Homo sapiens: one gene and its partners. The protein of the gene in region 3 interacts with the protein of the main gene of each other region in a pairwise test. Each region holds a gene or a part of one and is shown on either strand. Other genes may lie near its edges. The genes, in order: TCEANC, FGF1, VBP1 and EFHC1.

Region 1 (7,855 bases), about 140 Mb from region 3:
GTAAAAACATGCTCTTCAATTTCTCTTGCAAAGTTTTGCCACAAATCAGCTTTGGGTTGATCTGTGGAAGAACTAGTTAAAGCTGCGTAAAGAAGCTCTATGCATTTAGTTCTCATGGGTGTTGTGGGATCCAGCAACTCACTCGATCTCTTGCCAGTGGATTCAGGGTCACCATCCCCAAAATGCTCTTCCTTAGGTTTCAATTGAATGGCTCTATTTTCAGGCACAATCATTTCACTGAGTTTTGCAACGTCTTGGGAAGACAGAGAATTCGAGCTGCAGATGCCCAGTGTCTCATTCTGACTTGGGTCATGAGAAGGTCCTGAATTTTCTTCTTTATTACCCCTCACAGGAAATAATTTAGGGCTGTTCCTCGCTTTGGAGTGAGTCTGCTTATAAACAGCTTTCCACTTTGATAGCAAACACTTGGCTTTCTTTTTCAAAGCCACAGAGGGGCAGTTTTTGAGGACTCTGTACACAGCTCTGACCACATCTGTCTCCTGGAGATGCTCCTTAGTCACATAAATTGTTTCTAGCTCAGTAAGGTGGTTGCCAAGATCCTCAAAATTCCTTTTGGACATCAGTTGCTCAATAAGAGAAGCTCTGGCAGCTATCTGGTTCTTGTCAGACATCTTTACAGCTGCAAAGAAAAAAGAGGTTTCAGTTTTCTTAAGTTTGCCGTTGCTAGTCGCAGCTTCTGGATACTAAAATAGCACTTTCTGTCAGTTACCTAGGCAATGTTTTCCGAAAGAGTCATGTAATACAAATGTATGCGACACGCTAGAAAATGGAATCTTTAAGGTGACGGTATGGTTTACTCTCAAGAGTTTAATTCCTACGAGTGAAAAACAAACAAACAGCATTGCAGAGCCTCTACATAACATCTGCTTAAGAGGCTTGCCGGAGGATCTGCTATAGCTTTTCCACCTCCAATTTTACAAATCAATGATCTTTCTAGATTAGTCAATCCATTTGGGCGGAATCCGGTGGTCATGTTGGAGGTGAAATCATGCCGGTGTCAGCATCAATATGGCAATGCTGAACAGTGCTAGACAATTTTTCCCCAGAGTCAGCTATATAACTGAACTACTTGCTCATTTCATAATCTTTAAAGTGGTACTCTTCTGAAAATAAAAGAGAAACAAGACAGAAAGGGTTTGCTAATGTCTCAAGCAATCTAAGGAAAATGTGAGACAGCACAGGTTGAAAAGCAGCTAGAGATACGTCTGCGGGTCCCAAAAGCCAACAGGCTACACTGTGCTGCCTTAGGAGTCTTCTGAACAAGGGAAAGGTTCAGACTCAATGATCCAGATGATTTATGACTTTAGACTAACTGGTTCTTACATTTTGGTTTTGTTAATTTTTAAAAAATTTTTAAGTGTAAAGAGTTGCTCAATGATTATGTCTGTGTGAATTTCATCCTAGGCAGGCAAATGTTTACTTTTATCTATGCAGTCTATTTTTTCCCTCCACATAATGTACATAATCTTGTCTATATAATACCCTTGGATCTATATTTATCTGTCTGGTCTAAATGTGAACATAAGCATCTTGATGGCAGGGACTGTGTCTTTTCAAAAATCCATGGGCTCTGTTTTATAGCACTTGATATTAAATAATCACCACCGAACATACACAGGCTAAGAACACTGAAGTGTTTAGAGAGAGAATTCACGCAGTCTTCCCAGACACCATATGACAAGTGACATAAAACATAATGACCTTTTAGTAATTCTACTTCCATAAATTTACTTTAAGGAAATGAGAGATGTGGAGACTGCATATGTAAGAATTTTCTTCTAAGGAGAAATTAGAAGGCCCTCAAATGGTTAAATGGAGAATGGTTAAAAATATGGCACACTCCTAGGATACAGTAATATAACCATTTAAAAATCATGTATTTAGATAATATTTAACGACATGGAAAAATGGTCATAAAGTTAGGTGAAAAACAATCAAGATGTAAAACTATATAAAAGACTAAACAGTTAACATATGGGCCGGGCATGGTGACTCACCCTGTAATCCCAGCACTTTGGGAGGCCGAGGCAGGCAGATCACGAGGTCAGGAGATCGAGACCATCCTGGCTAACATGGTGAAACCCCATCTCTACTAAAAATACAAAAAATTAGCCGGGTGTGGTGGCGGGCACCTGTAGTCCTAGCTACTTGGGAGGCTGAAGCAGGAGAATGGCATGAACCTGGAAGGCGGAGTTTGCAGTGAGCCAAGATCGTGCCACTGCACTCCAGCCTGGGCAACACAGCAAGACTCTGTCTAAAAAAAAATAATAATAAATAAATGAATAAACCAGTTATCATATGACCCAGCAGATCCAAGAGAAATGAAAACATATGTCCACACAAAAACTTGTATACAAATGTTCATAGCAGTATTATTCACAATAGCCAAAAATGGGAAATAATCGAAATGTCCATCAACTGATGAATGGATAAATAAAATGTGATTTATCCACACAACAGAATATTATTCTGCCATGAAAAGGAATGAAGTATTGATACAGTTACAACATGGATGAACCTTGAAAACATTATGCTGAGCAGAAGCAGCCAGACAGAAAAGTCCACATATTGTATGATTTTATTTACATGAAATGTCCAAAACAGGCAAATCTATAGAGACAGAAAATAGATCAGTTGTTGACTAGGTAGGGTAGGGCAGAAGGGCAGTGGGGTGAAGGAGGAGGAGCAGCTGATAAAGTTCAGGGATTTTCTTGGGAGGTGGTGGCACACATAAATCTTCTCAAGATTTATTTGTGGTGATGGGTTATACAACTGAGTATACTAAAAAACACTGAATTGTACACTTTAGGTGAACTGTATGGTGCGTGAATTACATCTGAATAAAGGTGTTATTTAAAAATAGAATTTGATCCAAATTTTATTTAAGAATTACATGTGAAAAGACTGAAAAGAGATACACAAAATTTTAAAGAGGGGCATTTTCTGAATGGTAAGATTTTAGGTAATTTTCATTTGTTATTTTCCTCTTCTGTATTTTCTGTGATGAGCATGTATTGCTTTCATAATCAGAAAAGTTATTGGTCTAACGCAATTTCATGATAAACTATATGCACTTAAGATATACCTACTGAAAAATGGTATGAGCAATGAATCAATCACCTTCTACCCACCTCCCCTCTGGAACGAGAATGTACATAACACTACTGAACTGTATACTTAAAAAGGCTTAAGACAGGCTGGGCGTGGTGGCTCACACCTGCAATCCCAGCACTTTGGGAGGCCAAGGTGGGTGGATCATGAGGTCAAGAGATCGAGTCTATCCTGGCCAACATGGTGAAACCTTGTCTCCACCAAAAATACAAAAAGTTAGCTGGATGTAGTGGCGCATACCTGTAGTCCCAGCTACTCGGAAGGCCGAGGCAGGAGAATTGCTTGAACCCGGGAGGCAGAGTTTGCGGTGAGCCGAGATCATGCCACTGCACTCCAACCTGGCGACAGAGCGAGACTCTGTCAAAAAAAAAAAAAAAAAAGGGCTTAACACAGTAAATTTTATGTTTTGTATATTTTATCACAATTAAAATTTTTTAAAGAAATATGAAGAAAAGGTCAATAAAAGAACATATAAAATGAAGAGCAAAGTGCTTTTTGGTTGTTTATACATAAATACATTAACTTCTATAGATTTACTCATTTTGCTGGTAAGACAAATTGCTGCTTTCACCCCACTGAAACCCCGAAGCTATAATTACAATTCCCTTTAAGAATTACCTTGAAACTCAGACCTTCAGTTGAGAAATTCTGACCTGAGTCAAATATTGCTTAACTTCCTTTTGGGCGCTGTAGGCCCATCTCTTATTCACCATCTTTCTCAATGCCTAGCAAACCTCCATCCTGATTTCAATAGTAATGCATATAGAATGCAGGCACATTGAATGTTTCTTCTTTGTTAGGAAACTTTTCAACGAGTCGGGGAGGGCTCAAGTATATTGAATAACTTGAAACTTTATCACTGTGACACAACTGCGTGACTTCAAGATCTGAAGCAGACAATTCTGAGAGAAATGTTCGCTAATAGAGGGTGTGAATATTTTTTATTTTTCTGTGCTGTCTTGCCTGTTGTTTATTAAGAGTTTGATTCTTAGGAAGACCTCTTTTACTGTATGCAGTCTTTAAAAGTGGAATTTTAAAAAGGCAAAAAAGAATTATCTTTTAAGTGCTGGTTCACAATAATTAGGAAAATTACATAAGATCCTGAATTGATGGCCCTTTGTGAAACTAACTTTAAAACAAAACAAAACTGACTGCCCCAGGTTTTCTACATTCCAGCTCCCTCTGGTGGTTAAAAATGTAGGACTCAGACTCTTGGTTATGTAAGGGTACTTAACTCTTCATATTTGGGGATAAAGTTTGAGGGGAGATGCACCTGTTTGAGATGCAGTAATCGATTTCTGAGGCAATTATGAATACTTATCTGAATGCAAAGCCACAGGTGATATAGCCACTCTTAAGAGACGATATTCACATTTCAGAGGGAAGGTGGGTAGAAGGTGATTGATTCATTTCTCACCATACCATTTTTCAGTATCTTAAATGTATACAGTTTATCATGAAATTATATTAGACCAATAACTTTTCTGATTATGAAAACAATGCATGCTCATCACAGAAAATACAGAAAAGAGTAAAAGAACAAATGAAAATTACCTAAAATCTCACCATTCAGAAAATGCCCCTCTTTAAAATTTTGCGTATCTCTTCAGTCTTTCCATATGTAATTCTTAAGTAAAATTTGGACCAGATTCTATTTTTAAATAACACCTTTATTCAGATGTAATTCACATACCATACAATTCCCCTAAAGTGTATAATTCAGTGGCTTTTAGTATATTCACAGTTGTGTAACCCATCACCACAAATAAATCAACTTTAGAAGATTTATCTGTGCCACCACCCCCCAAGAAAATCCCTGCACTTTAGCAGCCACTCCTCTTTCTTCACTCCACTGCCCTTCTGTCCCACCCCACCAAGTCAACAACTAATCTTTTTTCTGTCTGTATAGATTTGCTGTCTGGACATTTCATGTGAATAAAATCATACAGTATGTGGTCTTTTGTATCTGGCTTCTTCTATTCAGCATAACGTTTTCAAGGTTCATCCATGTTGTAGCATTTTCAGTACTTCATTCCTTTTCATGGCAGAATAATATTATGTTGTGTGGATAAACCACATTTTATTTATCCATTCATCAGTTGATGGACATTTTGATTATTTCCCATTTTTGGCTATTATGAATAATACTGCTATGAACATTTGTGTACAAGTGTGTGTGTGTTTTTTTTTTTTTTTTTTTTGAGATGGAGTCTCGCTCTGTCACCCATGCTGGAGTGCAGTGGTGCAATCTTGGCTCACTGCAATCTACACCTCCTGGGTTCAAGTGATTCTCGTGCCTCAGACTCCTGAGTAGCTAGGATTACAGGCATGTGCCACCACGCCCGGCTACTTTTTGTATTTTTAGTAGAGACAGGGTTTCATCATGTTGGCCAGCCTGGTCTCGAACTCCTGACCTCAGGTGATCCACCTGCCTTGGCCTCCCAAAGTGCTGGGATTACAGGCATGTGCCACCACACCCGGCCTGTGTACAAGTTTTTGCATGGACATATGTTTTCATTTATCTTGAATCTGCTGGATTATATAACTGTTTAATCTTTCATATAGTTTTGCATCTTGATTTTTTTTCACTTAGCTTTAGGACTATTTTTCCACATCATTAAATATTCTCTAAAAACACGATTTTTAAATGGTTATGTTATTGGATCATCCTAGGAGTTTGCGATAGTTTTTAATCATTCTCCTATTTGGGGCCTTCCAGTTTCTCCTAAGTTTGAAGAAAATGCGTACATATGCGGTCTCCACATCTCTCGTTTCCTTAAAGTGAATTCACAGAAGTAGAATTACTAAAAGGTAAATATGTTTTATGTCACTTGTCATATGGTGTCTGGGAAGATTGTGTGAATTCTCTCTCTAAACACTTCAGTGTTCTTAGCCTGTGTATGTTCGGTGGTGATTATTTAATATCAAGTGCTATAAAACAGAGCCCATGGATTTTTGAAAAGACACAGTCCCTGCCATCAAGATGCTTATGTCCAGCACTCTTTTCATCCTCCCAAACTGAAAACTCTGCACCCATTAAACAACTCCTCATTCTTCCCTCCCTCCAGCCCCTGGCAATCACCACTCGACTTTCTGTCTCTATGGATGAGACTACTCTAGGTACTTCATGTGAGTGGAATCATACAGTATTTCTCTTTTTGTGACTGGCTTATTTCACTTAGCATAATGTCCTCAAGGTTCATCCATGTTGTAGCATGTGTCAGAACTTTCTTCCTTTTTAAGAATGAATAATATTCCATTGTCTATACATAACACATTTTGTTTATCCATTCAAATGTCAACGGATACTTGAGTTGCTTCTGGCTTTTGGCCATTGTGAATAACACTGCTGTGAGCACTGGTATACCAATCTCTCTTTGAGACCCTGCTTTCAATTCTTCAGAGTATATACTCAAAAATGGAATTGCTGGATCATATGGTAATTCTATTTTTAATTTTTTGAGGACCCACTGTATTGTTTTCCATTCCCTTCCACATTTTTAACAGGATTTAAATCCAGTCAAACTTTCTAGTCCTCTGTGGGACCATCATGTGGATATAAAGGATTTATTGCCCTAGGAGGGTATAATGTGGAAGCCATTGAAATACAAAATTCTGACAATTGCCATAAAAAGACAAGGTAAGGCATATGTCCAGCTTAGTTCTACATAGTTCATTCAATAAATATATATTAGGGATTGAGTATGTGCTAGATGCTGAGCCTAAAGAGACAGTCTCTGCCTTGAAGGAGCTGATAGCCTAGTGGGAGTAATACTGACAAGAAACTGGCCAGTTACAACACATGTGGAATTTCAACATGGACAGACACTGGCTGCTAGGGGAAACACACGCAGGATGGCACCAAACCCTATCTGGGCTCGCCATCATCTGGACAGCTACAATTTGCTTCTTTACTGCCTTCACTGTACTTCTGGCACTCACAAGGCCCAACTGTGAGTCTGGCACTTTGTTAGAGGGATCATCCTCTAGTACAGATCTCAGAAAGATACTCCCTCATTTTCCTGCTGAAAGCCCTTGAGAGGTTTCCCCTTGCTTTCATGATGGAGCCAAAGCTCCTTGGCCAGTGGCAAAAAGAGCCCTAGCAGGCCTCCCTCTTGACTACTCGCAACCACTGATGGGCACGGCTCTGTGCCTTTGCTCAAGCAGCATCCCGAGCCTGGCTGATCTCTCACCATTAGTGGTTCTCAAGCCTGGCTGCACATTAGAATCCTCTGGGGAAATTAAACAACAAAAAACAAAAACAAACAATGGCAGGGCCTCACTCCAGATAGGATGAATTAGGATCTCTGAGGGTAGGGCCTGCATATTGGCTCAGCTCTCCAGGGTGACTCTGATTTAAACCACACACAGGCATACAACCCTCTTCCACACCCCAGCAGGACCTGCCAGTTAGGCTGCCATCAGCCCCAAAGACAGCTCTGGTTCTGCTCCTGGACCGAATGCAGACAACTCTATGACTGGCTTTTCTAGATGAGTCCCATTCAGTCAGAAAAGATTTAAAACACCTACTGTGTACAATGCAGCTGACAACCTTCTCTACAAATTACAAATGACAACTGTAATATTTTAAGTGTCATAATGTACACAATTCCTGATATTCACCCTCTCACTTACCTCTTCACAGTGGAAGGCAACATATATTTATTGAGCAACTCTCCAGGCCACACACACTCCAGTCATCTCAATCCTCACAATACTCCTG
Region 2 (7,855 bases), on a different chromosome or scaffold from region 3:
TTGCTTTAGGCAACTTTAGAAGGAAAAGAAAGGATTGACTGTGGTATACCAATATTGTGGTATGTAATTAGCAGAGTGAGCACACTCTCCCCACCTTTTTCCTTAGACGATGCGTGTGCATCTGTGTGTGTGCCTGTGTGTGTGATTCTGCATGATGTACTAGGCAGCAGCGTACTTCCTCCTAAGAATAAGATGTCATAAGATCCAGAGGTTTATTTAAGGAAACACTGCTTAAAATGATAATTTAGAAAATCTGAGAAGCAAATCTATAGCTCCACACCAGGGCTCTTAAGATGAAGAGATCCACCCTCTTGCCATTGACTTAAAATTGTAAATAAGTCCTTAAATGTTTTTTTTTTTTTTCAGGCCATATCATATCTTTGCCTAAGCACGAGCCAGTCACCTCAACAATAGTAGCATAATTTTACATGGTTTATGTTAAGAAGAAAAAGTTTCACCTGAGTTATTTATGGTGCCTGGCTCCTCAGGAGGCGAATTTCCTGTATATGTATATTACCCTAACAGAAATGTAGAAAATCACCCATACTGCCTTCTGTTTCCAAACACATTGAAAAATGTTTCTACCTTCGCATTCCCTGTTAGCCTTTAAAGTCTGACATCTGGTAACAAGGTAAGTATCGAAAACTAAGCAGCCACACCTCAGGGATGCTGGGGAGGTCCTTTGATAGAAAGATGAGGCAGCAGGATGCTCAGAAACTCAGAGACATTATCACCTATTATTGGAACATTTATTAATATTTGTAAGGTGCAGACTATGATACACAAAAAGACAGTGATGTGAAATAACAGGCATCTTCATCAGAGGTCTGCTTTGCAGCCTGTGAGTTTAGTTGTCAGCAGTACACTCAAGGCTGAGGACTTGGCGCCTTGGGTTCCTTTGCCTCTGACACAAAGCAAGGACCTTCAGTACTAGCTGATGCTCCAATCAGTTTTTTGTTCATACACACTGTTGGCCATTGTGAATCTTTCTTATCATGCCTTCCAAGGAAACCAATACCTACCTCCACCACCATCACATTGCAAACGACCAAAAGCACATATGTTCATGATGCTTTGTTCAGAGCTGGCCCGAAAATGAATCCATATGAGAGTCACGTGACAGGAGCTGGCTATGAGACTTACTTAAGACAGCAATGGGAATGTCCCCAGGTTAATAAACTAGAGCATGTTCAAAACAGAGCAGGGAACTACCAACCTCTTCCTTCTAAGAAGATCTGACAGGCTCTTTGGCTGATTTGAAAGCAGTCCCCCTGAAGCTGACCCGGTTCTAAAGTTGAAAATGCTAAGTTTACCTTGCCATGTCCTCTGACATTTTGATAGGGGTTTATTTTATGCTGGGGTTGCTGATTCTTCCAAAATCTGGGTTTCTGGGATTTGCTTTATTCAGCAGGAACCTACAAAGTCTGTGTTTATTCTTGACTGAAAGAATTGAATCCACAGCATCTTTCATCATAAATATAATGCCCTGGGAGAAGATACAGCAGCAAACCAGACAGACAAGGTCCCCAGTATCCAGTACAGTGCCTAGCACACAGTAGGCACCTTAATAGTCATTGAACAGATATATGAATGATATCTGGGCTGAGATGGTCGAGGTCACATTGGTGTTTTTACTACAATGCTTTGCATCTCCGAAATCACAGACTTCCATTTCACAAGTTAGCAATGGTATTTAATTTTCCTTGGCCAATGTTATGCTTGAGTTTGATTCATACAATAAAAAGTATGGACCATTATAATTATCTTAGATTTCCTCTCTGGGTATCTTTTTCTGGCCAAATCTTCATACTAAAGAGACGTTAAGCCACACTGCATTTTCTCTAACTTGCCTGCAAAGATTTACTAAAATAAAACAGATTGATCTTATCCAAGTAACAAAAACAAAAAAGTTATGAAATTATTTTGCTGCACAAATCTAAAATACTATTATTAACCATAATGTCAGCTTACTTAGGTCAATTCTTCAATTGCACTATTGCTTTGAACTTTCACAAACTGTCATTTTCCTTCCATTCTAAATATGACAGTTCAGTTACTAAGGAATTGTTTTTAGTTAACAATTACTTCAATTTCATATGAAACAGGAGCTAACACTCTCATCAATTTTTATTCACAATTACCATTGCTTAAGAGTTCCTACTTTCAAAAGAAAATTTGTAATAGCACAGTGGAAAACAAAAATCTCATTTTATAGGTAAATAAGTATCAGATAAGTGAGTAGCTTATACATTGTATCCTATTACTATCATTCTCAGTGCCTGAATACTAATCAGTTTAACTGCTTTCAAGCTATATATTTTTAAATGCAATTAAAACATACAGTCTCACAGTAAATTTCAATGACTTATTAAAGGCCTTTACATGGCATCAGTATCATATGTTAGAGATGAATGGTGTTTCTAATTTGCTAGCCACCTGGGTCAAGTTTAAGCAGGAAGTGTATTTATACAAGTAATGGTAATACAAATGGTCTCCTGGGAAAAGCTGTTGGTAAGGGTTTAACATTTTTGAAGTATGTTTTTGTATATCTTCGAAATGGGCATTTTATAGGCATTGGGCCAAAGCCTCTTAAAATCATGCTCCTTAGTACAGGCATAACTATTGTCAGTGCTGCCTGAATGCTCAGGTAGACTCATGAGGTGTGCATTTTTAAGGGTTAGTTGAGGTCAGGTGAGGTTCGGGGCGTCGAACCACCTTCATTTGAATAACTCTTTAGGACCAGGACCCTGCTCCTTAATGTATGGCGGGTAAGGCAGCAGTATTGTCAGCACCTGCACCTGGGGGGGACCTGATGGAACTGCAGAAACTCTGCCCCCAACCCACTGAATCAGAATCTCCATTCAAACCAGGTCCCCAGATGATCTGCAAGCACTTCAGTGTTGGAGAAGCACTGGGCTAGGACCCCAAAGCCTCTGCTTACCAGGGGCCAAGCACAATGTGTGGCATTACTTTCTTTTTCCTTCTCCTTCTGAAATCATCCTCTTTTTATGGTATCCCCTCAGCCAGTTTCCCTTTCTTTCTCTGCACTCCCACACTCAGTCCCCAGATCCACATGAATTTCCCAGCTCTGATATCCTTGCTTGTTATCAGGAAACCACTTCTAGTGCTCTCCACCTGAAGTCACCCAGGGCTCTCTGCTGCTGAGTAACCTTGGGAAGGTCAAGGCGTGGTAATGACTCCCAAGGATTTATTCTGCCTTCCTGCGGCTGGGCCTCCCTTTCTTCATTTATTCTACATGGAGATGCCATCCTTCTAAGTTACCCACCAAAATCCAATCTCTCTTTTCCATTTTAAATGCCTCTGTTCTGAAGGGGGGATTTCTTTGTCCCTGTTTCTGGTCATGGAATGCTGCCTTCCTAACCTGGCATGAAGCTTCTTTGCTAATATTTGCAGGGCACAGGAAGGACAAAAGGGAGCCATGCCAGATGTTTGGGGGAATCACAGATAGGGTTTACTCAGTAGAGGGAAATAGTGTGCAGTTACTAATGTCCCACTTAGCCGACCCCTTAACACACTTCATTTAGCCCCACTTTTGCATGGAGGGACTCAGCCTGCAAGAGGCAATTGGAGATCCAAACCCAGACCCAGACTGGCCAGCCAGTTGACTCCTAGAAGCAATTTGGTCCCTCTGTTCTAAACTGTGCAGGGGTAAAAGGCTCTGCAAAGAAGTGAACTGGGCATTTAGAAGCAAGTTGCTTACAAATTCAGGCTCTGTGGGCTGGGGGTTAGCGCAGCCAATGGTCAAGGGAACATTTTTGGGTCAACCAGGTGAGGACCCCTCGAAACTTCTCTGGAGTGGTCAACACCCAGAACAGATCTCTTTAATCAGAAGAGACTGGCAGGGGGAGAAACAAGATTGCTTTCTGGCCATAGTGAGTCCGAGGACCGCGTTTGCAGCTCCCATTCTTCTTGAGGCCAACAAACCAATTCTTCTCTGCATGCTTCTTGGATATATAGGTGTTGTAATGGTTCTCCTCCAGCCTTTCCAGGAACAAACATTCCTCATTTGGTGTCTGCTAAAAAGATAAAACCAAAAGAGAGTAGGACAATCAGTGAGTAGTTTCACATGGGGGTCCCCATTTACTAGCTGTGTGACATTGGGCAAAATACTAAAGCTCTCCATGCCTCAGTCTCCTTTTCAGGAAAATTGGGGTCATGGTGGAACTTATTTCACAGGGTAGTCATAAGGACTTAGAACAGCACCGGGCACTAAAGAGCTGTCAATATGCATTTGCTATTATTGTAAACTTCCTTTCCATTTAAAATCCATTGTAAAGTAATTAAGATGCTACTGATAAGAGCACTTCTAAGAGTCCTCAGGACTCTAGAATCTCCCACTGGGGACATTCTGCTCGACTGTAAGTACCTTGAGGGCAGGGCTGGATCTTTCATCTCTGTAGTGGCCTGGCACACAGGCCTGACCATGGAAAAACATTCCAAATAGGTAAAAACCAGACTGTGATGTAGTGGGTTGTTGTTGTTGCTGTTGTTTTAACTTGAAGGCTAGACTTAAAGAATAAACAAAAAGCTGCTAAAATGCCTTTTATCCTGGTGATTTTCACTAACGTCAGGATTTTACCTGAGTATTGTTATGAAGATATGCTTGTGCAAAATTTATCCTAAGCATGAAACATATCCTAGAATGTAGATTTTTTAAAATGAAAATAGCTTTATTTTTTGCTACTTATAAAAAGAATCTTATAAATAGATGCTACTTGTGGTCAGGCACAGTGGCTCATGCCTGTAATCACAACACTTTGGGAGGCTGAGGCAGGAGGATTGCTTGAGCCCAGGAGTTTGAGGCCAGTCTGGGCAACATAGCAAGACCCATTCTCTACAATTTTTTTTTTAATTAGCTAGGTGCCATGGTGTGTGCCTGTAATCACAACACTTTGGGAGGCTGAGGCAGGAGGATTGCTTGAGCCCAGGAATTTGAGGCCAGTCTGGGCAACATAGCAAGACCCATTCTCTACAATTTTTTTTTTTTTAATTAGCTAGGTGCCATGGTGTGTGCCTGTAATTACAACACTTTGGGAGGCTGAGGCAGGAGGATTGCTTGAGCCCAGGAATTTGAGGCCAGTCTGGGCAACATAGCAAGACCCATTCTCTACAATTTTTTTTTTTTAATTAGCTAGGTGCCATGGTGTGTGCCTGTCCTCCTAGCTACTTAGGAGGCTGAGGTAGGAGGATTGCTCGACCCCAGGAGTTTGAGGCTGTAGTGAGCTATGATTGTACCACTGCACTCTAGTCTGGGTGACAGAGCAAGAACCTGTCTCTAAAGAGTAATAAAAATGCTACTTATAAGAAGAATTGTACTTTTAAAAATATACCTTTACTTTGTAAAAAGAAAAAACTATCCCAAAACCCACCACCCAGATATAGGCAACTGTTAATCACTGATAAACATCCTGCCTTACATCTCTTTATGTACATACAGACTAGATAAGGCTATATGGATATAGACTTATGATATCATCAAAATGTCATGTTTTATTTGATGTTTTAAAAATGAACAACAAACCTATGAAAACATTCAATACTGCTAACGAGAAAAATGCAAATTAAAAATTATTTATCATATGTTAGCTATCCTATGTGCAAAGATAAAAAAAAATTTGTGCAAAGATAAAAAACCATTTGCAAGACTTAGAATGTGGGAACTAGGCACTGCCATGCACAGTTGGCGAGAAAAATTAGTGGAAACTTTCTGAAGACAATTTAGCAATATGTATCAAAATTTACAAGATGTATTACCTTTGACTCAGCAATTTCACTTCTAGGAATCTACCCCTAGGAGATGGTTGAGTAAGTGTACAACTGTATTTTTGAGGATGGTCTCTGAACCAATGGTTATAGGGGCAAGCGATTAGGAGTAACCTATATGTCCATGGAAAGGTGATTGGTTAAGTGGGTAAAAGAATATCCGTACAGTAGAACCCAGTGCAGCTGTACATTTATTAAGTTGAAAATCAGCCACAACGTATTAAAGAGTGCAGTTACTTGAAAAAAATCCAGCAACCACTATTTTGCTTACTTGTAGTCAATCTGTTGGTGGAAGGGGAACTCAGTTTTTGAACTTTCTATTCGTCAAGATCTTAGAATATATTTATTACATTTGGGTCTAAAACAGGTATATTAAAACACTTATGCTGGAACTGAGACATCTGACTTTGCTTTGCCTTTTTCAAGTCGTGTGACCCCTGCAGTCTCTCTTCACCCACAGTGGTTGGTGATTCCCTGTCTGGCGGTTTCCAATTATATTGTTCATTGTTCTCTATGTGTGAGCATGTTTGTTTCTTTAGATTATAAACCCTAGTGAGGAAGGAGATGGAATCTTGTTGGTCTTCTCTCCATCCCCCAGACACAGAGCCTTGCAAATAATAGGTGCTCACCAGCTAAGTAATGCATTTAATTTGATTCTTGAGATAATATAAAGCAGTCAGTAAAGTCAGCCTTTCTTAGTAAGGAACTGTGTAACAGGAAGTATCCTGCTTCTTATTCATTCATAATCTAGTGAAATGACAACAGGGTGAGACACTTTAGATCATATTGGAACAAGATGAGATATAAATATAATATTTTATTGGATGACTCTGCTGCCTCTAGAGGAACTTGGTGCAGACATTCGTGTTTGATGCATGTTGTTGGGGGTAGAAGGAGGTAGACAGCTTGGACCTATGTGGGTTGCCCACTCCCTTGTAGGGAGGACTCATGCCTGACACCTCATAGTGGGCATCAGGCCTGTGTTCTGTGACGAAGGTGAGGATGGCCACATTCCCCACCTGATGTCTCTATTATACTGGAGGAGTTGACACACACAAAATAGCTGAGTCACAGGCTGAGTCAGCAGGCCAGATCAGCGGTGCTCCGTCCCTCCACCAGGATTTGTTAGCACTCATTATGCACTTGGTACAATGCTGAAGACATGTGGCTTAACTATTGATTCATGTCTATTGTTTAAATTGTCTTCTTTTTTATATTTGGCATGTTTCCCCTCCCACCCTAAATTACATAGGTGACATATACTTACTGTAAAAAAAAAATTGGAAAATACAGGAAGTTATTCACATATTATAAAATCACCCATTCTCCACCCCCAGAGATAACTATATCAGTATTTTGATATATAGCCTTTCAAACTTAAAAAAAATATACATATCCTTTCCACACACACAAGTTTGAATCAGGATGGATTAGTGCCTAAATTTTATGAAGAGCATGAAGCAGAGCTTTGAGATATCTTAGAACTTCTCTTTATCAATGGGGAAAATGCAAACATTCTTAGGCGTAATATACTAAGATCATATTTCAGGTGAATTGTAGTGATGGCCACGGCTATGGTGGGAGAAGGGGGTGCCTGGAGCCTATCGGAAATTAGATTCTGGGAGTTCTCCCTCAATATTTTTATATAAGTGAAAGCAGGTTACAATAAACGTCAAAATTTATTTAAAGAGGGAAAAGCCATAAAACTGTGGCATAACCTAAGACACAGTGAGGGTGAGGGGCTTCTAAGCTGATGACTTGTCTTACAGCCACCACTGGTCTGTGACGTGCCAGCCACTCTGATGGGCGCATTCTGTGTGTTGCACCACTGAACCCATGTACGCTCTGTGTGAGGCGGTTATGATCCATGACTGTCCTCATTTTAGACAAAGCTCAGAGTGGGTAAGTGACTTGCCAGAGTGGCAGAGGCGTGAGATTCAATCATGAGTCTGAGACTAAGCGATTGACTGATGGATTGATTTTACTACCACTTGGAAGAACTACCTTAAAAAAATCCCCTACTGCCAAACCCCTTAAAGCCGTCCCAGGTGATCTGTACTGAGCACATAGC
Region 3 (8,178 bases):
AAAAGTTTTGGATTTTAGAGCATTCTGGATTTCAGATTTTCAGATTTAGGATGCTCAACCTGTAGTTATAAAAAGTTAGAGACAATTTCAGATGGTACATATATATTATATAGCTAATTTATTCTTTCACTTTCCTCTTCATTTTTTATTCAAAAATAGGAAAAGAAGAATGACCTTGCCCACCACTTTATGCATTTCCCATGCATCCCTAGTAGTAAATATGAAACTAACAATCAAATACATTGCCTATTCATGCATCCTATTCACAAAATGATTTTACAGGTTGCATGTCAAGATTATCAATTTTATTACTTATTTTTAATTCAACAAGTTTTACCATAGAAATCATACTAAATATGGTTACTGGGTTCCCAAGGCAATCCACAAATGCTTCCTTCAGTATCAAATAACTGAAACAAAGTAAACCTAAAAGGCAAACAGAATAATCTTTTGTAACAGTAATAACTGATCAAAAGAAAAGCAGTAAAACTGATGTTAAAATATTTTTTATACCACATGCTGATCCTTGAAGAAAGGCTAGTTAATTAGATAAGGATCAGAAACAAGATGAAAATATATGAAACTTAAAAGAGATGCTACAAGAGTCGTCTAGTACTTTACAGAACTCTAGTTCTTTATTATAAGTAACTTCAATTATCTTATAGCTTCTAAGATCTTCACATCATTATTCTTATCCATATTTACTAGCTACCAGAGAATATCTTAGCTGAAACAAGGAAGAAAAAGGAAGAGAAACACAGCAAGGGAGTGAACTAAGAAGCCATCAAACTAGACAGTAAAGGAAATTGAAAAGGTGAGGCTGAGAGATAATGGCTGAGTTCTGTATGTTAAAGAGAGATGCCATCTTCCTAGAAGGGTCACTGCAGGGAAGAGAAAGAAGTGTAAGTTTCTGGCACATGATACATGTTATCAGGTGCTGGAGTTTAGCAAGAATTAACTATAGCGGCATAGGCTGTGGTTAAGAGACAGGAGGTGCCTGGTTTGAATCCCAGCTTCGCCACTCATTAGATGAGTTGACCTTAGGGAAGTTATTTAACCTCTCTTTGCCTCAATTTCCTCATCATCTGTACAAGTACCTTTTCGTCACCAGGGATTAAATGAGTTAGCATATGTGAAACGCTTATAAGAGTACGTGACACCTATGTATAGCATAATGTGCCACAGGGACACAAAGTGCCAGGGATTTTGTTTTGGGGTAGAGGTCAGAGAAAACTACAGGGAGATGATATCTGAACTAGATGTGGAAAGATGAAGAGGTCATGAAATGGACAAGGGTGAAACAACAATTCAAGCAGAGAAAGAAAACAAATTACTGCCTCAGCGGGGTTGGGGAATGGACTGGGTCTGACTTCTAACCACTATGGTATATTGCTTCCTATCATCATGAATATTAATACCTATTCGACACCTACTACACTGCAATACTGCAAGCATGTTCTCTGTTTCCCATAACAACTCTCTAAGTATTGTCATCCCTATTTCAGTTAAAGAAACTCAAGCTCAAAGTGGTAAAATAATATGCTTAAGGTTAAGCAGCAACTGGGAAGCAGAGCCAGGATTCAGACCCTGGTCTATTTAGAGGCCAATAATCTTTCTACAATACCATGTCACTTCAATTATTAATAGTTTGGAAACATAAACAGTTATATAAAATTTGGGTTGCTTATTACATTATGTTGGTAGAAATTTTAAGGTCTAGAAAAAAATAACCACGACATTGTAGGGAAAAAGCATTTCAAGACATTATAAAGCCCTCAGATAAAGTGTCTCCTCCCGAGTTAGATTTCTGACGCCATCTCTAGCTGAGCACCATGAATGTAACATTTAAGGCCCTATGGAAATTCAATTAGACACTTAGTTTGAGCTTATACTATGTGTGAGGCACTATGCTATGACCAGGAGAAGTAGGGCGATTCATGAGAACTACCTCACCTCCTCCCAGTAGCAGAGCATGAGGGGTAAGCTGCCAGTCTGGACCTCCACGGATTGTCCAAGTTCAAACCCTGGATACCTCACTTACATCCTGTGTGGCCTGGGGCAAGTTACTCAAGTGCCCCGTACCTCAGTTTTATCATCTAAAAAACGGGCATAACAGTAGTAGCTACCACCTCGAGTTTTGTAAAATCATTAAGAAAGTGCCTGGCACTCAACAAATTTTATTCCTTGTTATGGTTAGATAATAGATCAATGTAGAGAAATAAATGACACAGCTCATAAAAACACAAAATAATAACCAATTACGAAATTCAATCAGCAAATGCGAATATACAATATCAAGTGTGGTATAAATAAATGAGTCTTTAGAAGGATATAAGACGTAGTTAGTAAAAAAAAGGCAGAGGTAAGGTAAGGTACAAACCAAAAGATTGAGAAACTTCCATGAAGATTTTATAGTAGCTAAGTGGGGACAGACAGATGACCTGGCCTGGAGGGCCAGTCAGATGTTTTCTCTCATTAGTCAAATAGTTTTCAACTACTATTTCTAAATTAAATAAATAAAATAAAATTTTTAAAAAGCCACCCAGCACAGGCAGCGCCCTCCAGAACGGCCTGTGGAGCAACCCGATCCCCTCTAGGACACTAGCGAACCTGGGACCTAGCGCCATCAGGAGGGTTCAGCCTCCTCTCTCAACAATTCATTCTCCACTAAGTTGTTAGAATGATGTAGTTAAAACGAAAGGCCTTCTGATGACAGCCCGTTGCCTACTGGAAAACCTCAATTCCTTAGCAAGACACAGAAGGACTTTACACTCCCAACCTATCATCCTATTTTCCCATCGGTCTCTTCTTCCATTTCCCGAGGCAACATTCCCGAGACCACTGCATTCCTTCAACAGACAAAGTGATATTCCCGGTTTTCACATCTTAGCACTGGCTGTTCTGCCTATTCATTGTACTGTGTCTCCAGCATCCATGCTGAGTCGAGAGCTCCTCACCACCTCCCCTTTTCCAACCAGCAGGGGGACGAAAACCGGCGGCAGCCCGGAGGTCCCTCAGGCCGCCCTGCCCTGCCACCCGCCGCCCCTCGCCCCTCGCCCCTCGTCCCGGCCCCGCACCCCGTTCTCTTCTACGGCCTTCTCGAGCTACGTTTCTTCCGGGCGGGCCCCCAGCAGAGCTCAATCTGTCCAGGTGCGAGGGGTGAGAGCAGACCGAGCGCCCCCTCCCTGAACACTTGGCTCAGCTCCTTCCAACAGTCGAGGCCTGGGTGGGAGCCGGGAAGAAAGGGGCAGTCCAAGGCCTCAAGCCAAGATGCCAGGGAACAGCGTGCCTCTTACCACAAACACGGCCTCAGGAATCCCCAGGTGGAGCCGCCGCCCATTCCCTGTGGCCATTTCTCCTTTGCCACAACTGTCCTTAACGGCCGCCATCTTGGGGATGCGAGCGCGCGACTGCCTCCCGGGCCGCCGGCCGCCGGGATTCCGTGATTGGCTTGTTCGCACTTGCAGGCCCGCCTCTCCATCTCCATGCACATTCATTGGTGCGCAGGGAGCGTCCCCCACAAGTCCCCGTTCTCCTTTGGCCGAAAGTAGCCCAACCTCTAGGTGCTGATTGGCTGCGCTCAGGTAAGTGACAAGCGTGGAAGGGCCGCGAAAGAGAAGCTGGAGCGACAGGAAAAACCCATACGTCCTCCTGGGAAAAGGGGTCTTGTGAGTGAGCGGTGCTAAAGCCCTAGGAATAGGGACCTAGCCTGACCCCACCCCGACCCTAGAACTGGCAGCAGCCTTCGCAATGGCCTCTGGAGCGACCCAATCCCCTCTCTCGGATGCTAGCGAACCTGGGACCTAGCGCCATCACGAGGGTTCAGCCTCTGTGCCTTTCTGGTCTCACCATCCCAGGGAGCTTCCTGCCCCTTGAAGGGAACTTACTTTGTGTCTGTTTCAGAGTGGTCACTGGCCTCATTCTAATAAATACCCTGCCTGTCGCACCAGCCTTTCCTGAAAGCCACCTTTGATCAGAATGTCTTCTCTCCAGCTCAAACGTTTCCAAAACTTCATAGTCTACATACAAAATCCTAAGAACTCCACCTAGGCTTCTAGGCCCATGGACTTACCCAATGTCATCCTACACTACAACCCTTTAAAAGCACATGTGTCATACAGAACCAAGTAATTATTCTTCGGGCTCTTTTCTGTGCTTTATTTCACTGGAGTGTTTCCCAGTGAGGCAGTGCTTCATCCACTTGCACAAATTCTACCATGAGCCTAAGAATTACGCAATGGAAAGTAAGTCTCTCTTCTCAGAGGCAATCACTGTTACCGGTTTATCTCCGCACATAATGTACGATCAAGCATATAGACATAGATATGTCTTTAGATATAATATGAGGAAGAAATTGGTATCGTCATATTGTGAATGAGGAAACTAAAGCTCAGTGAACCTGTACAGCTCCTCCAAAATCCTACAACTACATAGTAGTGAAGCCGGAATTCCAAACTAGTTCTCCAGTGGCTTCTATGCGATTTGGCTTGGGAGGATGAAGACATGTTAGCTAACCATGACTCTGACCTTTTCTGGTCAGCAGTTTTGTAAGATAATGTCTCTGTTCCTGGAGAGAAAAGTATATGGGAATTCTATTCTTCACCACTCTCCCCCACCTCAGTGCCTTCCAAAAAAAAATTTTGTTTTTGAAAAGTAGGTAACGTTTCTACAGAAAAACATTGAGATATCAGATACACATGCAAATTTTGTTCAACTTCACTGATCCCTATCTATATTAATCATTGTTAGAACCAATCAAGGACTTACTTCAAACTTTAGGAAATATTTCTCCAAATTATCACTAATTTTAATTTGGAATAAATCCCTCTAAGAGATATAGTATTTGACACTTCGGGCCAGGTTTTTCTTTTGGAGCCAAAAGCCTTATCAGCTTATCGCTCATGTTTTACTCCCTTACAGGTACAAACAGAAGATTCCCTTATTTATACTGCTGAATATATTTCCTTTCTAGTGTTCTCTTAATTAGAAAGTTGTATACCAATTCTTTCCTTCCTGCCATGGCTGCAGCAGCTTTTCCAAGAGTACACTAACCTTATCAACTCTATAGGTGGTCATTTTCTTATCTCTTAGCAAAAAAAAAAAGGAAAAGAAAAAAAAAAAAACCTTCCTCTTGCCAGATCCAAATCTAGCTATTACCTGACTAAATATGATTGGTCTTTAGCAACCCTTCAGTAGCCCACACCTTTTACAGCTTATCTTTAGATTGCTTTAATAAAAGCATTTTTTAAAACAGACTTTAAAAGGTTGTAGTTTTTCACCATGGACACTTTTGAAACAAAACAAAACAAAATGTAAAGAAAATACGCATACAACAGGAAACAGAACAACTTAAACAATCATTTCACGTAGTGTTGTGCTGATAAATGTTCAACTAATTCTCTTTAGAAAGGGGGTATATATTTATTATAAATTGTATTGATGTAAAAGGTGTATAGCACACAATTTCATAAGTGATAATAAAATATACAATACTCTTTATCGTTAATTCTGTATAACCAATTCTGACAGGATGCTTTTGATTTTTGCCAAATACATATCTCCCTAGACAACCTACAGTTGCAATTGATGAACTAGTGTAGTTCTGACATGAATGTTGCTTGATATTTTCATTTATGTTAAGTAATAAGAAAAAAGTAATTCAACAATTATTTTTATATTGGTACTTGGATCATTCATCAACAATGTGAGTGATTTATTTGCTGAATTGGATAATGGTTTTCAAATACCAGAAAAATATTGCCTCATTTTATGGTGCTGTTCACAATAATGGCTACAGACACAACTCACTTTTAAGCTGAATCTGCATTAGTAACATTTTCTCCATTGCTTTCAAGTCTAGAGTGACAAACATAGATCAAGCCGTAGTTTGTAGCATCTACCAATTTCTGTAGCCTGGATACTCCCACAATGGCTGATTTCAATCCATGTCGAGTTGGGAGGACATGCCCAGTAGCACACAGATACAATCGATGTAAATAACCTCAAGAGCATAGGTAACATTCAAATGTCGAAAAATAATTAGAAGGTGATAAATTTTGAATATTTATTACCTTTGCCTTTAAAAGAATTTAATTGTAAATTTTTATAATTTAATTTTAAATGATGGCTGTGTTTAACAACCATCTTGCAGAATTTCTAGAAATTTAACAATTGGTTCTCACAAGCTGGTACAAGCCAGCTCTGGTGCACCACTGGCTCATATTTTGGGAAGCCAGAGTTTAATGACTTCAGTGAATAGTACCTGTAAATGTCACACTAATGTGCTCTGCAGAGAAGGAAGAAAATGATGTGACATACAATTGGAGTCCCCTGGAAGAAGAGGGTGATATCCTTAGCAACTTCCAGAACCCAGATAACCAAGAGTTGACTTAAATTTGTACAGCCGGGAACCGACAACAACTCTCACTCCATCTTTGCCTGGAAGCTTTGTGCAGGTAACAGGTTCTGTCCCAATCTCCACAAGCCTCTGAAATTACTCTGAAGAGCTGCAAATCCTGAGGCTGGGGGAATGTGTCTCCTTTTTCCTGAGCCTGGTCACTGGGGTCATTTCCTCCCAGGAAGCCCACTGGGAAAGAGCCCAAGGCCTTCAGAGAGATGCCAAGCATTTCAGGATGTTCTGAGACAGCCTCTGCTCGACCTTCTGATTCAGTTTCTAATCCTGACTTCTGAGAGCAGAAAGTGCAGTTTCCCCTAGGGGCTTTGGAACTCCCCTGGAGGGCACTCAACTGTGATAGTGCTCCTGCATGCTAAGCCACCCCAGCCTCTTGGGGCTATTTCCTAGTAAGTCAGAATACATGTGTATTCTATTTCCAGACATGCCAATGGGCCTCCATACTCACTACCCTGGGTTGTTGAGTGTGCTGGTAGTGTTCTCACTGTGTATTGTTATTGTATCTTCAGTGTTTTTGCTCTGTTTATACAAGAGAGGACAAGGTAGGATTTTCCTAGACAAGGTAAAATGTGGCAATGTGATTTCCTTTTTCCTGGGACTGATGTTATTTATCCAAGGTGATGTGGAGAGGTCCTTTGTTCAGGGAACTAACCCTTCTGCAACCCCCACCCCACCACCTCATCTGCCAGAATGATGGCCCTGGGGACTCCCAGACATTACCCTGCTTTATTTCCAGAATCCATTTCTAGGCTTGCCACTGTGTAATAGGCCCTAGAACTTGGGTTCTAGTTTAACCCTGTCATTTAACAGGCTGTGCCTCATTAGACAAGTGTCTTCACCTATCTAGCTCAGTGTCCTCACATGTGAAATGTGAGCTTTGGACTAGAGGATCTCCAGACTCACTTCTAGTGCTAATACATTTTGACTACGACCTCTGGTGAGTCATCAGGGCACTAGTACTAATTCTGCATCCCATGGTTGTCACTAGATCCCACTGGATCCTCCGGGTTCCTTCTGTAACTATGCAATTCTCAATTTAGAAAACCTGATCTTGGGCCCCAAGGTGAGTAATTACACCCTCCAAATCCCTCTGCCCCCATGTCCACCCAAGCTCTTCCTTTCCAACCAAACCCAATAAAAAGCATGGATGTAAAAAGGTTCAAACTCTGCTTTCATGTTCCTGAATCTCCTTTGGGCCGGACTCCTTAGGATACATGAAGACCTTCAGTATAAGCCATGGTAAATTCCCAGTCACAAGTTTTCCTGTATAATAATTGGGAGAGATGGTGCATTTCCAGCACAATGGTTAAGGCTAAGAGCATGCACTTTGCAGTCAAGCTTGATTATTTATTGGCTATGGGATATTAGGTTAGTTACTTTAACACTGTCTCAGTTTTCTCCATTGTAAAATAACCATAATAATAGGGCTTTGGGCACATATTATTAAGTAGATTGAATGGAATTACACATAATAACATACTTGATACTGTGCCCAGTACCTAGTAAGCCCTCAATAAATTTCAGCTACTGTCCTGATAATTGAAAGGCATGGATATGGCACAGAATAAGAAACTCAAGGGTTTGAGACATGAGCCATAACATGTCATGATAATGGCCTCATGATGGGGAGAAATCACACAGCCTGCTCATAGCATGGGAGATCTGCAGGGTCCCTCAGATAGACATCTGTTTTAAATCCCTCACAGCCTCCTGGGGAGGAAGAAGGGCTATTCTTCACATATACAGATAAGAGAGAGCATTCAGTC
Region 4 (7,855 bases), on a different chromosome or scaffold from region 3:
GCATTGTGGTTTTTTTGTTTGTTTGTTTGTTTTGTTTGTTTGTTTTTGAGACAGAATCTCACTTTGTCACCCAGGTTGGCGTGCAGTGGCGTGCTCTCAGCTCACTGCAAACTCTGCCTCCCAGGCTCAAGTGATTCTCCTGCCTCAGCCTCCCGAGTAGCTGGGATTACAGGTGTGTACCACCATGCCTGGCTAATTTTTGTATTTTTTAGCAGAGACTGGGTTTCACCATGTTGGCCAGGCTGGTCCTAAACTCCTGACCTCAAGTGATCCACCCACCTCTGCCTCCCAAAGTACTGGGATTACAGGCATGAGCCACCATGCCTGGCCTCTGTGCCTTTTAAATGGGGCCTTTAGCCCATTTATAATTAAGATTAGTGTTGATATGTGTAGATTTGATCCTGTCATTGTGTTGTTAGCTGGTTATTATGCTGGTTTGTTTGTGTGGTTGCTTTATAGTGTCACTGGTCTGTGTACTTGTGTGTTTTGTATTGGCTGGTAATGGCCTTTTCTTTCCATATTTAGTGCTCCTTTTAAGATCTCTTGTAAGGCAGGTCTGGTGGTAATGAACTCTGTCAGCATTTGCTTATCAGAAAAGGATCTTATTTCTCCTTTGCTAAGAAGCTTAGTTTGGCTAGATATGAAATTCTTGGTTGAAGATTTTTCTTCTTTAAGAATGTTGAATATAGGCCCCCAATCTCTTCTGGCTTATAGGGTTTCAGCTGAGAAGTCCAGTGTTAGCCTGATGGGGTTCCCTTTGTACGTGACCTGCCCTTTCTCTGTAGCTGCTTTTAACATTCTTTCTTTCATTTTGACCTTGGAAAATCTGATGATTATGTGGCTTGGGGATGATCTCCTTGCATAGAATCTTGCAGGGATTCTTTGTATTTCCTTAATTTGATTGTTGGCCTCTCTAGCGAGGTTGAGGAGGTTTTTGTGGACAATATCCTGAAATATGTTTTCCAAGTTGTTTGCTTTCTCACTGTCCCTTTCAGGAATGTCTGGTGAAATTTGAGCACTTGGTTTGTCTTTCCTATTTTGCTAACACGTTTTCTGGTCTAATATAACCAGTGGGTATGCTTTCTTTTTTTTCTTTTTTGGTGAGGGGAAGGGACTTAATCATATACAGTATTTGTTTTAAGTGAATTAGAAAATTGGGAATATGATTTCAGCCTAACTTGGCCATTGTGCATCTTGCCTCCAGACCTAATAGGAATTACATATTGTTTGAAACCATGGTTAGGTTCCAGATATATGAAAGTAAGCAATCCTAAGACTTACTCTGTTACAGGCACCTAACTAAATTTGATTGATTTAAATTATTTGAAAACAGTTATTTTGCCATTGTGCCTCCCAACTAGCTTAGCAAATACCTAGCAATATAACAATATAAAATACTTCAGGTAACTCTCAATTATTACCTGCATTATGGAGTTGGCTCAGTTGGAGACTTAATACAGCTTACATGCGCTCAAGCAGCAAACTAATGTTTAACTTAAGCAATGGCATAGAAATCATTATTACACTTTTTCTTTCTTTTTTTCTTTATTTGAGGCGGGGTCTTGCTGTGACGCAGGCTGGAGTGCAGTGTCATGATCATGGCTCACTGCAGCCTTGACCTCCTGAGCTCAAGCAGTCTACTCACTTCAGCCTCCTGAGTAGCCTGGACTGCAGGCAAATGCCATCAAACCAGTCTAACTTTTAAATGTTTTTGTAGAAACAGGGTCTCACTATGTTGCTCAGGCTGATTGTGAACTCCTGCGTTTCAGGAGTCCTCCTACCTCAGCCTCCCAAAGTGCTGAGATTGTAGGCCTGAGCCACAGTGCCTGGCCCATACACTTATTTTTATATAATCAGTTTATAACTTACTCTGAAAAGCTCCAAGAAAGATGATCATTGTTAACTTTCAATTATTTAGGTATTTTTAGAAAGCCAAGGAATTGAGTTAAATCCACCAGAGAAGATGGCTCTTGATCCTTACACTGAACTCCGAAAACAGCCTCTTCGTAAGTATGTCACCCCATCAGACTTTGATCAACTCAAGCAATTTCTCACCTTTGACAAACAGGTAAGTGACATAGGAACCACAATAGGCTTACTTATTTCCAAATGTGACCTACATTTATTGGCAAAAGGTTTGGGTAGCTGTATTGGTAACTATTTTGAAACATTACAGCTATAATTGAACTGTTTGGACACAGTACTGTCTTTCTGCTTTCATCAAGGGTTACAGGTACAGGAATGCCTACATTTCATATGGAGATCCAAAGAAGATCGTGGAGTTGCGGAGTTGTTTTGTGAACCTCACCAAACATTTAAATCTCAAAGCAATTCCTGAGCTACATCTGCTTCCCACCTTACGTTTCCAATTGACAATTTCTTTCCCTTAAAATGAGCTAATTTCATAGACTCCTTTGTGAAACCATAAATCGATTATTAGGAAATTTCACAAATATGCATACATGTAGGTTGTAATGTTAAAATGTTTAATTTCACAGAAGCCCCACTACAGATGCTTCCTTGTTAAATGTTATATTAATATTGGAGTCCAGAATGTTCTGAGCATTTTCCAACTCTGTTCCAACCTTCCTAATCCTCTCCCTTGTGAGCTGATGTGTATAAGCAGATTTAAATCCTTCCCTTTCTGTACTAAAGGGAGAAAGAAAAGGAAGAGATCACCCTCAGTGCTTCTTTGCTGCTCCTTTTCTTTAGACATTTAACCCCTTTTAGTTCAGAAAATGTAAACTAGCACTAGCATGGTCTTTTAAGGATTTTGTTCATATCAGTCATATATCTGTTATTATTTTGTATTTAAAGATTGTGTTTATTCCCACGATTTGAAGAAGCCTAGCCAAAAAAAAAAAAAAAAAGATTGTGTTTATATTATTGCTAGAAGATATGTGTTGATGGGACCAAAAAAAGACTGGTTAATAAATAAAAATTTTTTCTACACTAATTATATATAAACCATATTCACATGTACCTTTATTAATATATATATACCACTATGTAAAGAACTTCATTGCTCTTTTAATTTAGCTTCTCTTTCACTGACTAATATTTTGGATCAAAGTGAGCTCTTCTTTTTTGGCACAAACTTATAATCCTATTATTTAATTCTTTCCAGCTGCTGACATATAGTACATAATTTCAGATGTTTTAGTATGTTTGATGAATATTTCTTTTTTTTTCAATTTACCCCATCTGAAATTACTTCATAGTCTTTCCAGCTAGTCTTTCCATCGTTGATACATAATTGCCAAAGTAGCCAAGTTGAACTCCCTACTTTTAGGATTCTTGAGTCACTACTTTGGATTCTTCAAAGGTCCTTCGATTCTATGCAATCTGGGATGATACAGACAGCATGTATGGTGAATGTCGGACCTACATCATTCATTACTATCTTATGGATGATACGGTGGAAATTCGAGAGGTCCACGAACGGAATGATGGGAGAGATCCTTTCCCACTCCTAATGAACCGCCAGCGTGTGCCCAAAGTTTTGGTGGAAAATGCAAGTATGTTTGATTCAGTTTATTCTCTGTTACTTGGGATGTTTTTAGGTTCTTAAAGGAGTTACTTAATCAGTATGCAAAATTCGTTTATACTTGGAAGCCTCTAGCTATTTTTGCTTAGATGCTCAGAAAATGGCTTCCCACAGCTTTCCTCCTTTACTTGCCCCTCGGTCCAGGCGTGCCCCCAAGACAGTCTGGTACCCAGGTCAAGGAAACAAAACCAAAACAACAGTGGGAGATTTATTTAAAGTGCAGCAGAGCAAGGTTTCTGAACTGAAACAATTTAATATTAGATTTTTAATGCATTTTTCAAACAGGCTTGTTTTCATTCAAGGATATGAATGAAAGCTTAGCTTTTCTTTATATGCTTTCCTGACTTTGCTTCTCACTTCAACTACTTCCTAAACAGGAAGTTTCTATGTGGTTTAACTTGAGATTGGAAAAGGCATGTCTGTGACTCATAGAGGTGAGGTCCATTGTGTCAAACCCAGCTCATTCTTTACTGGTTTAAAATTACCTAGCATGGGCTGGGCATGATGGCTCACTCCTGTAATCCCAGCACTTTGGGAGACTGAGGCGGGTGGATTGCTTGAGCCCAAGAGTTTGAGACCAGCCTGGGCAACGTGATGAAACCTCCTCTCTACAAAAAATACAAAAATTAGCCATGCTTGGTGCCGCACACCTGTATTCCCAGCTACTTGGGAGGCTGAGGTGGGAGGATCATCTGAGCCTGGGAGGTCGAGGCTGCGGTGAGCTGTGATTGTGGTGCTGCACTCCAGCCTGGGCAACAGTGAGATCCTATCTCCAGAAAAAGAAAAAAAGTTACCTACCATATTTGAGAGTGGCAGTGCAACAAAATGGCAGCAAATACCTGCTGTTCACTGTTTCCTGGGATGAGTAGGCTTGCTTTAGTTATTGTCTTAGTAGTTTTTACATTTCTCTTAGAATAATGTCATCTTGGTCACATGTAATGACTGATAGCTCTTATGTTTGGGTGGCTGACAGGATTCTGTAAATGTGTTCACTGATTTTTTTTTCTTTTTACTATATTTTTTGGGAATTAGGATATAAGAAATTTCAGGTATTGGGGCTGGGCACGGTGGCTCACACCTGTAATCCCAGCACTTTGGGAGGCCAAGGCAGGTGGATCATGAAGTCAGGAGATCGAGACCATTCTAGCTAACATGGTGAAACCCCATCTCTACTAAAAATACAAAAAATTAGCTGGGCGTGGTGGCGTGCACCTGTAGTCCCAGCTACTCAGGAGGCTGAGGCAGGAGAATTGTTTGAACCCGGGAGGTGGAGGTTGTGGCGAGCCAAGATCGTGCCACTGCACTCCAGCCTGGGTGACAGAGTGAGACTCCATCTCAAAAAAAAAAAGAAAAAGAAATTTCAGGTATTGAGCAAGAAGTTTGTCTACATTAGAGGTTATAAATAAATGTGTAGTCTGAGGCTAAATTCAACGTGTCTGTACATATTGCTTCACTTGCACAGTGCTTTTTTATGAAAAATGCAGTATTATTTGTGGGCAAGGAGTTGGAGGTTTCCATCATTGAGAGAATGGATAAGCAAAAATGTAGTGAAGGTACATTTTGATTAATATACAGTAGTTAGAAGCAGTAAACAAGATGTACACAGAAAGCAAGTGGATGGATCTTAAAAACATAGTGCTGTGTAGGAAAAAATACATGAAATTAGATATATAATGCTATAACACATGCAAAACATAGTACACGTAGGACACATTCAGTCACATAGCTGCATTAGAATGATTGCATGTGAGGAGAGGAGAATGAGATTGGGGAAAAGGATAAAAGGGAGTGAAAATTGTCATCATTTTAGAATTAGGAAAGTTTATGTTATATATTTTTTTAAAAAAATGAAAATACTGCTAATTCAGCTTGTATTCTCAAATAGAAACAACTGGATCTGTGCCCTAGTTCAACATAGTTTGGCTTCTACCTACTATACATATTCTTATAATCAGTTCTCTACAGAACCGTCTTAGAGTTCAATGACAATGGGACTAATATAGTAATTTTGGCCTTTCAGAATGCTTAAACAAGCCTGAAATCCATGCAGTTCGGAGCTAACAAACATTAGATTTACAATAGATAAAGAAAATGGATAGGAATATATTCAGGGTGGCATGAAAAGTCTCACTGAAACTAAATCCCTTTAAATGACAGATTCCAGGTTTGTCTCTGCTTTATCAATGTGACCTATATTGAAAACTTAATATATAATTATCCTCTTCTATAATTTCCCAATTAAAAATTTTTTATCAAAGTTGCATGGAGAGGCAGCCTGGTGGCATATATAGGGTTCTTTTAAAAAGTAGGAAACAGGCTGGTCGCTGTGGCCGAAGCCTATAATCCCGTCACTTTGGGAGGCCAAGGTGGGAGGATCACCTGAAGTCAGGAGTTCGAGACCAGTCTGGCCAACATGGTGAAACCCCCTCTCTACTAAAAAATACAAAAATTACCTGGGCATGGTGGCAGGTGCCTGTAGTCCCAGCTACTTAGGAGGCTGAGGCAGGAGAATTGCTTGAAGCCAGGAGACAGAGGCTGCAGTGAGCGGAGATTGCGCCACTTCACTCCAGCCTGGGCAACAGAGCAAGACTCCATCTCAAAAAAAGAAAAAAGGTATCAGTCATGAGGTACAGAAAAGGCTATGTTCCCATCAGCTACATAATTCCTTTAACTAGAAGGGTAGTGTTAAAAGAATGATGTCTAATTGACTCTCAAAGGCATTTATCCAATGGGTGATTTTTATTAAATTCAATTAAACAAGAGGTAAATAATCTGCTATGGGAACCATTTCACATGCTAAATGCTATGGAGGACAAAATGTAACTCCCATTCCTAGAATCCTATCTTTCAGTCATTTCTAGTGTCATTAAGAAGACAAGGCATATAAAATACACAAAGCTGTTAAGTAATAACATGAGTATACCAGATTATCTGATTATGTAATTAGTTAAGTCATGCAGACCGAGGTCAGAAGGACAAAGGTGTGGGCCTGAAAAACTAAAGAAGTCTTTGTGGAAGAGCTGGGATTAGACTCAGATTTAGAATGGCAGAGAACAAAGAGCTCACTAGAAAGAAGAACAAGAGCAAAAGTTGGGAATTAGGAACAAGTATGGCATGTTTGGGGGCGCCCAAGAGATGGTGGCTAGGCAGAGAGTTTGTATTAGACAGTAATAGGAAATTATGGGAGTAACTTTCAGAAGTCCTCTCAACCAGGGCCTCCTTTTAAGTAGCTAAGATAAATCAAAATTATATATTTATAATGGATGGAGTTAAAATATCAGAAATTCAGAAAGTTATTTCTTCGTCAAGGGCAATTGCATATTACCAATAGGTGGCAGGTAATATCAAAACAGGACATCTTTTGACTTAACAAAAGCTTTCTACTCAGCTCTTGAACCCAAGGAACCAGGTTCTGAAAGTCTAAATATGTTAGTTATCCTTCAGACTGGCTTTCATAGTTTGATCTTGCCCTTGCCTGTTAGATGAATCTTGAACACCCCTTAGACCTTTAGTGTTCCAGAAAGTTGAATGTATTTCCTCACTTTCTGTGCATCTTTGTTGGCTCACTCAGTCATTCGAATAATATTAATCGAACATCCATATAGATGAAGGAAACACCATGCTAGGCAATGGAGATCTGAAACTACTATAAGCCCCATATCTCAAAGACTTTACAATCTGATGAGATCAACATACAGATCAATGAAATAGAACAAATTGTCCAGAAATAGATGCACACATATGAGGTCATTTGATTTTTGACAAAGGTAAAAAAGCAATTTGGTGGAGAAATGATTGTCTTTTTAACAAAAGGTGCTGGAACAATTCAATAGCCTATGCAAAAGTAAATAAATAAATAAACTTCAACCCTTACCTCACCATACATAAAAGTTAACCCCAAATGGATCATAGACCTGGGCGACAGAGTGAGACCCTGTCTCAGAGCAGGGGGAAAAAAAAAGCAAATGTAATGAAAACAAAAATTGACAATTGGGACCTAATTAAACTAAAGAGCTTGTGCATTGCAAAAGAAGCTATCAACAGAGGAAACAGCCTACAGAATGGGAGAAAATATTTGAAACAATGCATTTGACAAATGTCTAATATCCAGAATCTATAAGGAACTTAAATCAACAAGAAAAATAACAAATAACCCCATTGAAAAGTAGGCAAAGGACATGAACAGACACTTCTCAAAAGAAAACATACAAATGGACAACAAACATTTTAAAAATGCCCAACATCACTAATCATCAGAGGGATGCAATCATACCAGTCAGAATGGCTATTATTAAGTCAAAAAATAAC

What was found.
Region 1: the proteins of VBP1 (region 3) and TCEANC interact in binary tests that used the Homo sapiens proteins (3 or more experiments, as listed by UniProt).
Region 2: the proteins of VBP1 (region 3) and FGF1 interact in binary tests that used the Homo sapiens proteins (3 or more experiments, as listed by UniProt).
Region 4: the proteins of VBP1 (region 3) and EFHC1 interact in binary tests that used the Homo sapiens proteins (3 or more experiments, as listed by UniProt).

Annotation. Positions count from the first base shown.
Region 1 is NC_000023.11:13,655,286-13,663,140, reverse strand, and holds part of TCEANC (transcription elongation factor A N-terminal and central domain-containing protein), read right to left. Parts: intron 7,853-7,855; 5' UTR 7,768-7,852; intron 3,490-7,767; 5' UTR 3,455-3,489; coding exon of another isoform or gene 3,373-3,454; intron 2,111-3,372; 5' UTR 2,019-2,110; intron 641-2,018; coding exon of another isoform or gene 633-640; coding exon 1-632.
Region 2 is NC_000005.10:142,591,448-142,599,302, forward strand, and holds the end of FGF1 (fibroblast growth factor 1 isoform 1 precursor), read right to left. Parts: intron 4,038-7,855; coding exon 3,843-4,037; 3' UTR 731-3,842; downstream 1-730. UniProt on the Homo sapiens protein: Plays an important role in the regulation of cell survival, cell division, angiogenesis, cell differentiation and cell migration. Functions as a potent mitogen in vitro. Acts as a ligand for FGFR1 and integrins.
Region 3 is NC_000023.11:155,211,694-155,219,871, reverse strand, and holds the start of VBP1 (prefoldin subunit 3), read right to left. Parts: upstream 3,390-8,178; coding exon 3,297-3,389; intron 1-3,296. UniProt on the Homo sapiens protein: Binds specifically to cytosolic chaperonin (c-CPN) and transfers target proteins to it. Binds to nascent polypeptide chain and promotes folding in an environment in which there are many competing pathways for nonnative proteins.
Region 4 is NC_000006.12:52,450,770-52,458,624, forward strand, and holds part of EFHC1 (EF-hand domain-containing protein 1), read left to right. Parts: intron 1-1,918; coding exon 1,919-2,068; exon of another isoform or gene 2,069-3,325; coding exon 3,326-3,518; intron 3,519-7,855. UniProt on the Homo sapiens protein: Microtubule inner protein (MIP) part of the dynein-decorated doublet microtubules (DMTs) in cilia axoneme, which is required for motile cilia beating.